Homo sapiens: one gene and its partner. The protein of the gene in region 2 interacts with the protein of the main gene of each other region in a pairwise test. Each region holds a gene or a part of one and is shown on either strand. Other genes may lie near its edges.

Evidence for each region. The genes of interacting proteins can lie anywhere in the genome.
Region 1: the proteins of KALRN (region 2) and CDC5L interact in a two-hybrid assay, tested with the Homo sapiens proteins (2 studies listed by BioGRID and IntAct).

What each region holds. Positions count from the first base shown.
Region 1 is NC_000006.12:44,425,672-44,432,711, reverse strand, and holds part of CDC5L (cell division cycle 5-like protein), read right to left. Parts: intron 6,610-7,040; coding exon 6,529-6,609; intron 6,231-6,528; coding exon 5,988-6,230; intron 3,000-5,987; coding exon 2,802-2,999; intron 1-2,801.
Region 2 is NC_000003.12:124,715,338-124,722,377, forward strand, and holds part of KALRN (kalirin), read left to right. Parts: intron 1-1,909; coding exon 1,910-2,048; intron 2,049-3,587; coding exon 3,588-4,133; 3' UTR 4,134-7,040. UniProt on the Homo sapiens protein: Promotes the exchange of GDP by GTP. Activates specific Rho GTPase family members, thereby inducing various signaling mechanisms that regulate neuronal shape, growth, and plasticity, through their effects on the actin cytoskeleton.

The DNA of each region.
Region 1 (7,040 bases), on a different chromosome or scaffold from region 2:
TTTATTTAACAAACTCCTTGCACACACACATCCTCTACCACATTCTACATAAAATCTGAGATGGTTCTATTAGTTTTAAATGAGTATCTTAAGGATTTTCACTTAAGTGCTAAGTTTCAAATATTAATCATGAGTAATGAATGGCTCAAAGACTACCTCCAATATAAACCTCAGGGCATTTTTTTTTTTTAATCCATTCAGGAGACACCAGCCACGACAAAGCTGGACTTCATCTTGCTTGATAGGCAGTGATAGGGCCATAATTTAGATTCACGGTTCCAAAGTTCATGGCAGCAAAAATCAAACACACTGGCAGCCATGGCATACAGTGCTTACAGAGAAGGGCTTATCTCCTGAACCTAAGAGTGGAAAGGATAATTTAAGTATAGCATTTAGTTTATACAATATAACTGGAGTTCCTTCCCCACAACAAACTTTGAATAATGTTTATAATTTAGCAATCAACTGAAATGAAAGAATTACCACAATTGAAATAAAATATTTATGTATTTCAAACCAATAGAACTGTGTCTTCAAAAACTAAAACAAGCTAAAAGAAACCTAGTTCTGAATTAGTGATGGATACAAATAAAATGGGGGTTTGTTTATTCAAGTCTTTGAGCTGCTTTTCTTTTTTTAAAAGATTTCATGAACTTTCATTTGAAATAAGCACAGTTTACCAAATTAAAGGACTTGATTAAGTATTCTTTAAAAGTAACTAGCTGGGTAAACAATAAAGTAAGTTATCCAAGAGTCAAGAAAAGAAAAATGACTTCAGACTGCTTTATGAATATTCTCCAAAATCACCAATCCTTCAACAAAAATAGTTCAACGGAAGATTTCAGTTCCTGGTACTGAACTGAACAAAGAGAACCACATGTTTTTAATGGTTGCTCATAAACGACCCAAATAAATCTCCAAAAGAACAGGAGTGGCTCTTTCTGTATTTTTCCCTTTAAAATTCATAAGACCAATTCAACACAGAAATAAAAATTACTGTACTTTATGGCACCACTCACTGTGTGACACATTTATTTGCTGTCATGAAAGTTAGTACCTCAACAAAGTAAATGAGATTTAGGGAGAAAAAAATTTTCTACCATTTAAAAAAGCACAAAATGTTCTTGCCATTTGCGGCAAAAAGAGTTTACCCACCTCAAATGAGAAGATTTTCATACTAAGTAAGAAACCTAAGTATTTATATATAAATAATACAAAGAAGCTTTCCAAATAGCTTTTCAATCAGTGATGATGCTGATATTAGATCACAATTACACTGCTAACTACCATTTATAAGAAATGAAGCCTACACAACAAAAAAATGTAACTTACAATTTAACCACTGATGTTCTATTTTCCCTGGCTTTAACACTGAACCACAACACAGAGCAACAGCACACCCTGCTGGAAGTTGGTAATACAAATAATTAGCAGCACTGAACTAAGATTTTACCCAAGATGAGAATTACTTCAGAACCAGTCATTTCTCACTGAGAAAAAAAGAGGTTCACAGGCATTAACCATCAGCTACCTATATATATGTGATCTTAATGGTTAAATTAAAACTCAGAATAACTCAAATTAAAAGATACTGCTTTTTCCTGCTCATTTCCTCAGCCCCATACAGCCCCAACCACCCCAAGTGATTTTACTACTTCTGGCTTTAACCCTAAATAAAAATATTTTCAAATGCACTTTTTGTAAAGAGAAACTGGTAATCACATAAAAGAGGAAACCAAGACGATTTTCTGTATATGACTGCCTGAAGTACCCCTTCTCTCCCATCCCACCTTGGCCTTAGAAATGCCCCTAAAGATTACCATTAAAAATGCACAAGGCATAGCCGGGCATGGTGGCTCACGCCTGTAATCCCAGCACTTTGGGAGGCTGAGATGGGTGGATCACGAGGTCAAGAGATCAAGACCATCCTGGCCAACATGGTGAAACTCTGTCTCTACTAAAAATACAAAAATTAACTGGGCGTGGTGGGGCGTGCCTGTAGTCCCAGCTACTAGGGAGGCTGAGGCAGGAGAATCGCTTGAAACCAGGAGGTAGAGGTTGGAGTGAGCCAAGATTGCACCACTGCACTGCAGCCTGGCAACAGACTGAGACTAGGTCTCAAAAAAAAAAAAAAAGAATGCACAAGGCAGCCTGGTGGTCTGTGAACCACAATTTACATGCCATTGGCAAAATGCCTACACAGATTCTGGAATTCAAAATATGCAAACTATATTAAGAAACCACATGTCCTGAAACTGCATCTAGTATGTTTTCAACATTTTCACAGACATGAAAAATCATGGAAGCCACTAACTAGATAATCCAGCTCTGCCCTCCCTAACTCAAACTCACAGTAATCCAAGGATGAACAGAATTGTATTTAAGTTTTGTAAATGTACTCTCTTTGTTATAAAAAGAAAACTCCTCGTTACTGCTGAGATTCCTCTTCAGAGAAAACAGGCTATGCTAGCAATGACCTGCCTGTTCTGAGTGACTAGTATTGGCTTCTTGGCTCCTTGCTCCCACATCTAAAGGTTCTGATTGACCTCTGGTCAACTTGCAGGGCACTCTTTAGTCATGAAGGCCAACAATTCTTTAAAAAAAAAACAAAAACAAAACAAACAAAAAAAAACAATGAACAAGGCCAAGAAGATCCAACACTTAAGTGTAGTTTTCTCCAACAACTAAAAAGGCAATAAGCACCTCAGGTGTGTTTTTCTGACATTGTCTCCAGTGGCATTATTTAGTTCATTATCTCAATCAAAGTACATTTAAAATTAAAATTTTAAAAGGATACCAACCTCGAGCCTCTTTTCAAGTGATTCAATTCTGTCCTTTTTACTAGCCAGATTGGCCCGTGTGTAGCGGCTCTGCCCAGGAAGATATAAAACTTGACTGTAGCATTCTTCCCACACCTGGTTATAAGCTTCACTTGAGAGCTCTCCATGGCTCATTCCTTGTTTAACCACTTCCATCTCCTGCACCAAAACATCCTGGGCCTGTTTACAATAATAATTTCAATAAGTTTAAGTACTACAAACACTTGCCATATCCAGAGAGCTTTAGAAGACTAATTTTTTCCCTCATGCCTTGAGTCAAATCCAAGATGTGGTTGGTTGTTTTTTGGAAGGGTGGATAACAATACCTAGGAAAAATAGCTTAAGAAGCCTTTGAGTCAATGCAGACTGCTTTTTAAAAATCAAGCATCCATGTTTCCTCAAAAGTATAAACATCCTTTGCTTTCACTCACTATAACAGCAGCTATCATTTCTCAGGTACCTATTGTGTGTGTGAGAAACTAGGTTTAAAAGTTTTACCTACATTATATCCAAAGATCATAATCACCTTACAAATTAGCCAATATTAACCTCATTTAAAAGCTAATGAAATTTGGCCAGGCACGGTGGCTCCCTCCTATGATCCCAGCACTTCGGGAGGCTGAGGTGGGCGGATAACGAGGCCAGGAGTTCAAGACTAGCCTGGTTAACACAGCAAAACCTCGTGTCTACTAAAAATGTAAAAATTAGTAGGACGTAGTGGCACATGCCTGTAATCCTAGCTACTCAGGAGGCTGAGGCACAAGAATCCCTTGAACCCAGGAGGTGGAGGCTGCAGTGAGCTGGGATCGTGCCACTGCACCCCAGCCTGTGCAACAGAGTGAGACTCAGTCTCAAAAAAAAAAAAAAAAAAAAAAAAGCTAATGAAACTAAGGCTCATAGAGATTCAACCACTTGTTAAGACCACATCGTTAGTAGGCAGATGAGGCAGAATACAAATGGCACCACTGGGTGTGCCCCTTCCACTCTCCCACTCCACCATGTGTGCAGGACCTCACGTGATGGTAAAGGGGAGCTAGGCATCTTTTTGTCACATGGCATTTTTCTCATCCTGAAGGAATGCCCTGACATTGCCAGATAATGAGACTGGGGCACGAATTAGATGATAGATCATAAACCAGTTTAGTTCACTACTAAAGAAAATAGTGTAAAATGACAGAATGAGAGGGAAAGCTGGACAGGCCTGGGTTCAGATCACAGCTTTACCATTGAAGCAGCTCTTTGAGCTTGCTTAATTTATCTGAGCCCATTTCTCAGGGCTTTTTCAGCCTGGAAAGCTGAAAAACAGCTTTCCAAGCAATGATGATGCTGACCTTAGATCAGATGTGTTTGTTATTAGGATTAAGTGAACAATATACTATAGAGCCTAGCCCAATGCCAGACACACAGAATTCCATAAGCATATGAATTTTTTCCCAGCCCTTTGCTTCATGGCTTATGAAAAACTGGGAACCACCTTCTGTGCCTTACAGAAGGCTTTCAATCTTTCCAGTAATAATGAAAATAAACACATCAAAATCTACAAAATCAAGAGAAATGATTGATAAACAAAAAATTTTAACAAAAGAAACGGAAAATCATCTCTATAGAAGAAAAAATGGACACTTAATACCTTAAGGGAAATAATGGAAACAAATCAATGTTAACATATCTTAAAGTATATTAAAGAAAAAGAAAATCTGACAGTTTATTAAAAGAGAAATGCTATTTCACTCTGAAACTGCACAGAGTAAAAATTTACAAGTTCAGATCTTATAATCATTACGAGAGAATATGGCTAAGTTATCTTTAAACTATCCATAAATAATCTGCTAACTAAATAGCTGCTTCAAATTCTTTTTGGAACAAAGAGAGATATACACAGATAAAATATGAGAGAATATTTAAGCTACTTTGTTTCAAACAATTACAAACCAATACTTAGAATTATTATTTTTCAAAAATTGTGTTAGGGTTTACCCTCTACAGAATCTCCAAAAGCAACAATGTGATCCTTGTTTTAGGTTTCCATACATACAATTTAGGAAAATTTATTTCCTAAATTCCTCTTCCCCTCATATTTTCACTTTCAAAAGAGGAAACTGTGCAAGTATCAATTTCGTAGCCTGATTCTCAATCCCAGTTCAATGATTAAATGTGCTCGACAGAGTAGGCAACTCAACAGATGTTAGTTTCCCTACTGCACTTACTAAAAAATGAGTGACTCAGTTATTCTGAAATCAGGGACAAGTTATTGAAATATAAATCGAAACCCTCCTTCCTTTCTCTATTTTCTAAAAATCCTATAATAAATAATGTATTACTTATGCAATAAAGAAAACACAAAGTAAGAAATTGTGAAAAGCGAAGAAAGAGGAAGAATGCAGGAGAGAAGACAGGAGAGTTTGTAAGAATCTTGTTTGTTTTATCCTAAGTATACAGCAGCTCATTCCAAATCCATAGGTCTATCACTGCTCCTCAGGGCTGAAGGCTAAAGAAAAAAAGACTTTTAAGCTAATGACCACTCTGCTTCCAACGATGAGACCCACTGTATCTTCTTATACAATTATGGAGATTTCTATTTACAATCACAGTTGTTTGCTCTGTCAAAACAGAAGGAATAAAATGCATGTAGAAGAAAAGACCAGATACAGACTTCATATAAGAAATCATTTCTTCATGTCCTTATCCAAAAGAGTAGGGGGAAATCATGTGAGGGGAATATATTCAGTAAAAAAAATACTTCCTTCCTTTCAATAGCTAAAAGGTTTAATCTATAAACATTTTTATATTAGTCTCTCTCACCTCTTCATATTATTCTAAATAAGTGATGTTTAAGTACTAAAGGCATCTAATTTTTATTCAGAGATAGCAGAGCTGAATACAGAAAACGGCAACTGTAACAACTGTCAACGAAGCCATTAATACCCATGAACCAAAAACACCCTGGCGGTGTTTATTTGCTAAAGGTCTATCACACTGAACACGGGGGATGGAGGTATTTAAAGCATGTCCTTTTCATAACACTTAATCTAAACATGCATCTCCTAATCATACATTTCAGTTGTTTATGAATACCAACAGGGAAAAATAAGTTCATTATTTGTCCATGATACACAGCACCTAACAACTACCTAAATCTCAAGAAGAAATATTCCAGCTCAATCATACCTTTTTCAGCTCTTCTTTGGAGAACTTTTCATAAGGATTATGTTCCAGATAGGTAATGTGCTCTGAATTATTGGTACCAAACCCTACAGTTTTGCCTTTTTTATTTCCAGATGGTTCATAAGGGTGATGTAGAAGGTCATAATGAAGCATTGTGATCATTTCTTTTTTGATTAGTTCTTCACTTTTCTGTAAATCTGTTAAAGGCGGTTCTACATTTAAGGGTCTTAGAATAGTTTCATTTACCTAAAATTTTAAAACAAATACAATTACCAAACATATCACTATAATATATTAATGTTATTACCTGTTACAGCATGAATTAAACAGCGGTTTTACATTTTCAAAAGCAATTTCCATTTTTTTCCTTCTAAATTCTTTCTGGTACTACTGAAACATTTTAAAGATTGGATTTGAGAACTACTTTGCTATATTCCAGAAAGTAGATGAAATTTTGTTTTATAGTCTTTATGAATGATGTAAAACGCAGCAATCATATAAAAAGAAACTTAAAACTTCCTAAACCAGAAATTCTAACACTTACTTCTGATGGTCTTGGCAGATCTTTCTGGACAGCTTTATGCATTCGTTTCATTTCCTTTACACGCTCTGCATCTCGTATGGCCTAAAAAATGATTTTTATATCCTTTATTGCAGCTATAGCGTATTTGATATCTCTCAGTAAAGCTAAAAACACTTTGGTATGTAAGATCATGTGTGTTCAATAGCTAAAGTTTAGAAATCGGTTTAAGTTTGTAGAAAGGCAATGCTAAGGCAACAGAAATGAATCAGTCTATTCACTCTCATTATAATAGAAACTAAGAGCTTCCAATGTCTACTAGAGCATTCTCCAAACTTGCATGGATCCATATCACGTAACAAACTTTTCTCATCTAAATGGAAAACCTAAACTCCAAAGAGACTCCCACGACAAAACTCTTTCTTCCCTTTCACTCCAAAATTACTGACTTTTAACTCAAAAAGCCAGCCAAAAAATGTATTGTTTCCTGATTCTTATGAATAATGTGGGATAACACATTAAAATTTCATGCCATT
Region 2 (7,040 bases):
TGCTGGGAGAGCCTTTCTTTACCAGGCAACTGAGATTTGGATTCCCTAGTCTAGGGTAGGATGTGGGCATCTGCCTTATCCAAAAGCTCTAAAGGTGAACTTGGTGGCTAAGACTCTCTCACTTGGAGCAGTGCTGCTGTTAATTGCTCCCTTAATGACTCCAAGAAGTTCAGGGGAATACATTTAACAAGCCCAATCCTACTCCACTCTACTCTGATCACTCTTACCTCACCCTTAGCAGGGTCAGAGGAAAGCAAAAGAGGCTTGCATGGGTTCTAGCCTTTGCTCCTGTCAGGGAAAGTAGAAGACACCAGTGGGAAGGAGCAAGCTAGAGGGGAAGAGGTAAACTTGACCAGGGGGATTTCAGCTGTAACTGAAAGTCATTTCTGACCCTGCATCAGGCTCCTCTGCATGGGCATTTCCTGGGCATGTGCCTTTAACAACTCAATGTACACTAAAGAATACCTGACATTTGGTAACTCCTTGCTGTAAGAGGACAGAGGGTGGCTGAGAATAGTTACCATTTATTTAGCACTTACCTATGCTACCAATTATGCTTAAATGCTTCATCATCTCACTCCATCCTTGCACAATCCTCATAATCAAATAGGTGAACAGTAATATTCACCCACTATATGATAATATTAATTCATTATATTATATTAATATAATGAATAATAATTGTTATTATTTTGTTGCTGTTCTTATTCCCACTTTAAAGATGGTTCACTTTGGTGAAACCAAAACACAGAGTTCAAATGACTTGCTCCCAGCCTTCAGCAGGTAGGTAACAGAACCAGGATTCGAATCTGGGTCTGGATGGCTCCATATACCATGTTCTCAATCACAGTTCTCAAGGTTGGAAAAGTTGCCCAGAAGGCAAAGGATTCAAAAAGGGATCAAGAGCCGGGCACGCTGGCTCATGTTTGTAATCCCACCGTTTTGGGAGGCCCAGGCGGGTGGATCACTTGAGACCAGGAGTTTGAGACCAGCCTGGCCAACATGGCAAAACTCTGTCTCTACTAACAATACAAAAATTAGCTGAGTGTGATGGCACACGCCTGTAATTCCAGCTACTTGGGAAGCTGAGACACCAGAATCGCTTGAACCTGGGAGGCGGAGGTTGCAGTGAGCTGAGATCATGCCACTACACTCCAGCCTGGGTGAAAGAGAGACTTTGTCTCAAAAACAAAACAAACAAACAACAACAACAAAAAAAAGGTGGTGGGGTAGGGGAGGGACAGAGAATCAATAATGCAAAGAACAAACTTTGCCTACTTTCTGTTTTCCCCAACTTAAAACTGACAAATGAAAGTAGTTTGGCTAGGCACAGTGGCCTCCTCCAGAAATCCCAGCTATGTGAGGGGCTAAAGCAAGAGGATCACTTGAGTCCAGGAGTTCGAGGCTGCAGTGAGCTATGATTGTGCCACAGCATTCCAGCCTGGGCGACACAGTGAGACTTCATCTCTAAAATTAATCTTAAAATAAAATTAAGAAGTACTTTGCAAAACACATGTGGGGCTGTTTGCAGCCACTAGGTTATGGTTAATCAGGATATTGCTGAAGTCTCTCTTGGTGAAGGCTTTCTTTACTTAGCAATCAAACCTCTTAAATGGGTGTCACAACTTTTTTCTTGTGAGCAATTTTTAGAGTTAATGAAGGAGAATGTTTCTTAAACAAGGTTATACACACTCCCTGCAGTATACCATATTTGTAAATATATTTATTTTAGTTCTGAATATTACAATAACTTTAGGCTCTAACTAAATATGCATGTGTTGCACATTTGGTCTTCATGTATAACAATAAGTATGAGAGAGTTTAGAGATCTTACTGATTTGTACATGTGTTATTTTTCTATTTCTTCATTTCAAACATATTTCCTTTGCCTTTCCCTGCCTACTTTCAGGATGGATGATGGCCGGCTCTTAGACTACCTTATGAATCATGATGAACTGATGGAGGAAAAAGTAGCTTTCTATATCCGAGACATCATGGAGGCTCTGCAGTACCTTCACAACTGCAGGGTTGCACATTTGGACATAAAGGTAATAAGAAGTGGCAACCTGCTGGGCGCAGTGGCTCACGCCTGAAATCCCAGCACTTTGGGAGGCCAAGGTGGGCGGATCACAAGGTCAGGAGATCGAGACCATCCTGGCTGACACGGTGAAACCCCGTCTCTACTAAAAATACAAAAAATACAAAAAAATTAGCCAGGAGTGGTGGTGGGCACCTGTAGTCCCAGCAACTTGGAAGGCTGAGGCAGGAGAATGGCATGAACCTGGGAGGCGGAGCTTGCAGTGAGCCGAGATCGCGCCACTGCACTGTAGCCTGGGCGACAGAGCGAGACTCCCTTCAAAAAAAAGAAGTGGCAACCTTGCAGGGAATACCTTAAATGGCCAAGTCCAACTTACCAGTCATTACTCATAAGGAATATAAATTCAAATTCATTTTATTTACTTAGAGTAGAATATTATAACTTTTTTTTATTTGAGACAGAGTCTGACTCTGTTGCCGAGGCTGAAGTGCAGTGGTGCGATCTCGGCTCGCTGCAACCTCCGCCTCCCAGGTACCAGCGATTCTCCTGCCTTAGCCTCCCAAGTAGCTGGGATTACAGGCGCTCACCACCATGCCCAGCTAATTTTTGTATTTTTAGTAGAGACAGGGTTTCATCATGTTGGCCAGGCTGGTCTTGAACTCCTGACCTCAAGTGATCTGCCCGCCTTGGCCTCCCAAAGTGCTGGGATTACAGGCGTGAGCCAACACATCCATCCCATTATGACTATTTTTTTTTTTTTTTTTGAGATGGAGTCTCGCTCTGTCACCCAGGCTGGAGTACAGTGGCATGATCTCAGCTCACTGCAACCTCTACCTCCCAGGTTCAAGCAATTCTCTGCCTCAGCCTCTTGAGTAGCTGGGATTACAGGCGCCCACCACCATGCCTGGCTAATTTTTTTGTATTTTTAGTAGAGATGGGGTTTCAACATCTTGGCTAGGATGGTCTCGAACTCCTGACCTTGCGATCCACCCGCCTTGGCCACCCAAAGTGCTGGGATTATAGGTGTGAGCCACCGTGCCCGGCCTCCCCATTATGACTATTAAAGAGAATCTGGGCTGTCACACAATTTAAGTGTATCATCCATGAATTAATGAGAATATGCCAGAGCCACAATGACATCTGGTGTGAGAGAAGGTAGGGAAGTTCTACCTACCTAATCTAACTTCATAGAAGTAAGCCAACAAACGTCACCTTCTCTTCCATGCTTCTCAAAAAGAAGCCCCTGTTCACCAAAATGAGTAATTTATTATTTCCTTGATTCAATGCAGAAGCAGTGTAGTTAAGAAAACATGATTTTCAATGTCAAACAACTTCTCTGAATTACCACCCAAACTCAAAGTGTAGTAAGCTCAAAATGATAGTTTGAAGTATCCTATGCAGTTTCCGTAGTGCATAGGGAATTTTCTGTACACCATAGGCTTTATCAAAGAATAGCATAACTGTGTTTGAATTAATGAGGTATTTTGAGTAGTCAAAATAGAGGCCTAAACTTCCCTTCTTTTCTCCCTGCTTCCTTGGATCTCTGCAGCCTGAAAACCTGCTCATTGACCTACGGATTCCAGTGCCTCGAGTGAAGCTCATTGACTTGGAGGATGCTGTCCAGATCTCGGGTCACTTCCACATTCACCACCTGCTGGGGAACCCTGAGTTTGCTGCCCCAGAAGTCATTCAAGGCATCCCCGTCTCCCTGGGGACAGACATCTGGAGCATCGGGGTTCTGACATATGTCATGCTGAGTGGGGTCTCCCCCTTCTTGGATGAGAGCAAAGAGGAGACATGTATCAACGTATGCAGGGTGGATTTCAGCTTCCCCCATGAATACTTCTGTGGTGTGAGCAATGCTGCCAGAGATTTCATCAATGTGATCTTACAGGAAGATTTTCGGAGGCGGCCCACAGCAGCCACATGCTTGCAGCATCCATGGCTGCAGCCCCATAATGGCAGCTACTCTAAGATCCCCCTGGACACCTCCCGCCTAGCATGCTTCATAGAACGTCGCAAGCACCAGAATGATGTGCGGCCTATTCCCAATGTCAAGAGCTACATTGTCAACCGGGTGAACCAAGGGACGTAGCCATCTCCCAGCCCCTATGGTTTCACATAGACGTGCAGTGTGAACCAAAGCAAGACTGAATGTGACTGTAAATAATTCTGTTCATCATTTCACTCCGTGCAGTTCTCTGAATTGAGAGATGTACCTCTTAAACCTCGTCAGTGGTTATTCAGGGTCTGAGCAGCAGTAAAAGTCACCCTAAATCAAGGGGCTTTTCAGAAGGTCATTCTGAAGAAATAAAGAGGCAAAGGGTCACAGAAGTGTTCAGAAGAAGGGCAAAGATAAGAACAATATTAGCTGTTACGAAATTTTAACTGTATCTTCCAAAATGAGTGGTTAACTGGGCAAACCTTAAGCTCACAAGAGTATAAAAGATCTCTGGCTTTGCTGAAATTTTAAGCAAGAAGTTCTATTTAATGGAGATGTCATGTATATCAACTATTCTGGTTTAGATAACTTAGATATAGTTTCTTAATAGGATAGATACCCACATACAGTATAATATATCCCATTCAGGTTTCAGAGTTTTCTAATATAGAGATATATATATTAAATCAATCACAAGTAATTTTGAGTGCTCCAGTTAAGACAGTAATTTATTTACCGAATCATTACATTGTTTTGACTAAGCACAATTAGATGACAAGTTTTTTTAGAGCATTTTATAGATCTTGTATAGAAATCTTTTACCAGAACCTGTGCATTAAGAGAAAGCAATGTTGCCCTTTTGAATGAGAAAATTTTTTCTGTCAATCGCAGGTTATTTGATTAAGATAGGTTCTTTCTGTATATGAAACGCTCCCCGCAAATTCACTGGCAGCTCAGAATTATTCTGGAAAGAAAGCCTGCCAGGAAATAAATTCAAATACAGTATGAGCTGCGGGGATATTTTTGTGTCTACACCAGGTTTGAAATAAGTAAACAAATACAAGAGGTTCATATAAAAGGGCAAATGAAAACCTTTCCTACAGTTCCTATGAACAACGTACCAACACTTTCTGATTTCTTCTACAGCTGTAGAATACCATCTTTCAGAAAGTTGGCTGGCTTTATTTCTAACTCCTTATTGAAGCTAAGGGGTGCTTACTAAAAGGAGGCAGCCATATAGGCCTTTTAAAGGCCTGGTTCTAAGTCCTTTTTAAAGCCATGGAACAAAACCTGATACATCACCCTAACAGAGCATTAAGTTGTAACTGAGATTGCAATACCTGTCACCATGCAGCCGCTGATAGTTCTCTGAACTAAAAGGACTAATTGTACTTTGAGGCCAATGCTGCTTTCTGGTGTATATTCTCCATACAAGATTATTATTAACTGCTCTTTTTCCCTCTGGTGGAAAAAAAATTAAACCTGGGCATTTCATGGGTTTTCTTTCTTTATTTTTGTTCATTTGTTTTGGAGGGAGGGAGCTTGTTTTTTGTGTTTGTACATGATCCACCCTTAGTTTTCTAGAATGTGTGTTGAAAATTGCGATTATACAAGTAAGATTTTAAAAATGTAACTCAAGTGTTTGTTCAAATCAGGTTTAATGGTGTTGCTTCTCTCCTATAATGGGATAGAGAAAATTAAAATCACGTAGTACAGAAGTGCAAGAAGAGAATTTATGAAGGATGAATAGAACTACAAACCTATCTAAATGAAAAAGAAATGGTGGAAACTAAGCCTGAACTTTAACATATAAAAAACACTTATTCCCACAGAGAAAATGTAAAATTAAAAATCATCATCTTTTTTTTTCCATTGGTTTCAAAGACAACTTCCTCATTCGCCCTCCACCTCATCCCATCCAAGATTATAGATTGATAAATTAATGGAAAGTATAAGCAATAAGACTAGATAGCACTTAGTATTTTTGGGATTAACCAAATATATGGAAACCGACTCCGACTGTATTTGTTTCTTAATTTTCAAATGGCCCTGGGTCATAAAGCCTCACTCCCTCAGAGGTCTCTCGACTAACCCCTATAGTCTTCATTTGGACCTTTATGTATTTACAAACACTCTATGATACAATACATAAAAATTTAAAACATACATTAAACATGGTTACTAAAATTTTTCAAAATGTAAAACATATTTAGTAAAAAAATTTTAGTAAACATGTTTTCATTGTGTTTAAAAAATTTAAAACATATTTACTAAAAATCCTTTTAGTAAACAGTTTACTAAAACCCTTTCAATAAACATGTCTTCATTATGGTATACAGCATAAAAGAGGAAAGCCTGAGCCGGGCGCGGCGGCTCACGCCTGTGATCCCAGCACTTTGGGAGGCCGAGGCGGGTGGATCACAAGGTCAGCAGTTCGAGACCAGCCTGACTAACATGGTGAAACCCTGTCTCCACTAAAAATACAAAAAAATCATCTGGGCGTAGTGGCGGGCACTCGTAATCCCAGCGACTTGGGAGGCTGAGGCAGGAGAATCGCTTGAAACCGGAAGGCGGAGGTTGCCGTGAGCCGAGATTGCACCACTGCACTCTAGCCTGGGCAATAAGAGCAAAATTCTGTCTCGAAAAAAAAGGAAAGCCTGGCCCATAGGGTTTGTCATGGGACAAACTGTAGGCTCTGAGGATTCCCAATATCCATAAAGTCCAGCTTGGCAAGTTCTGTTCTGTCCACTGTGGATGACCTGAATCAAGATCCCCCTGCTGAGCCATTCTGAGTTTTTATAACAAGTTGAGTTTCTGCTTGAGAAGGCCAGGGCCCAGAACAATGGTGTGCAGACCACGGCAGGTGGGGGACAAGGAGGGTATTTTTGAAATTATGTTATGGGGGCAGTTGACAGAATGTTAGACAGACCCCAAGCTTTCATATCAGCTTTTACAACAGAGTTGGGAGGATCCAGATGTGGGGTTGCATGGAATTCCCCCAAGTACACATATTTGGGAAGTGAGAAGACAGGAAAGGAGGGACCTAGAAATGAAAAGTAG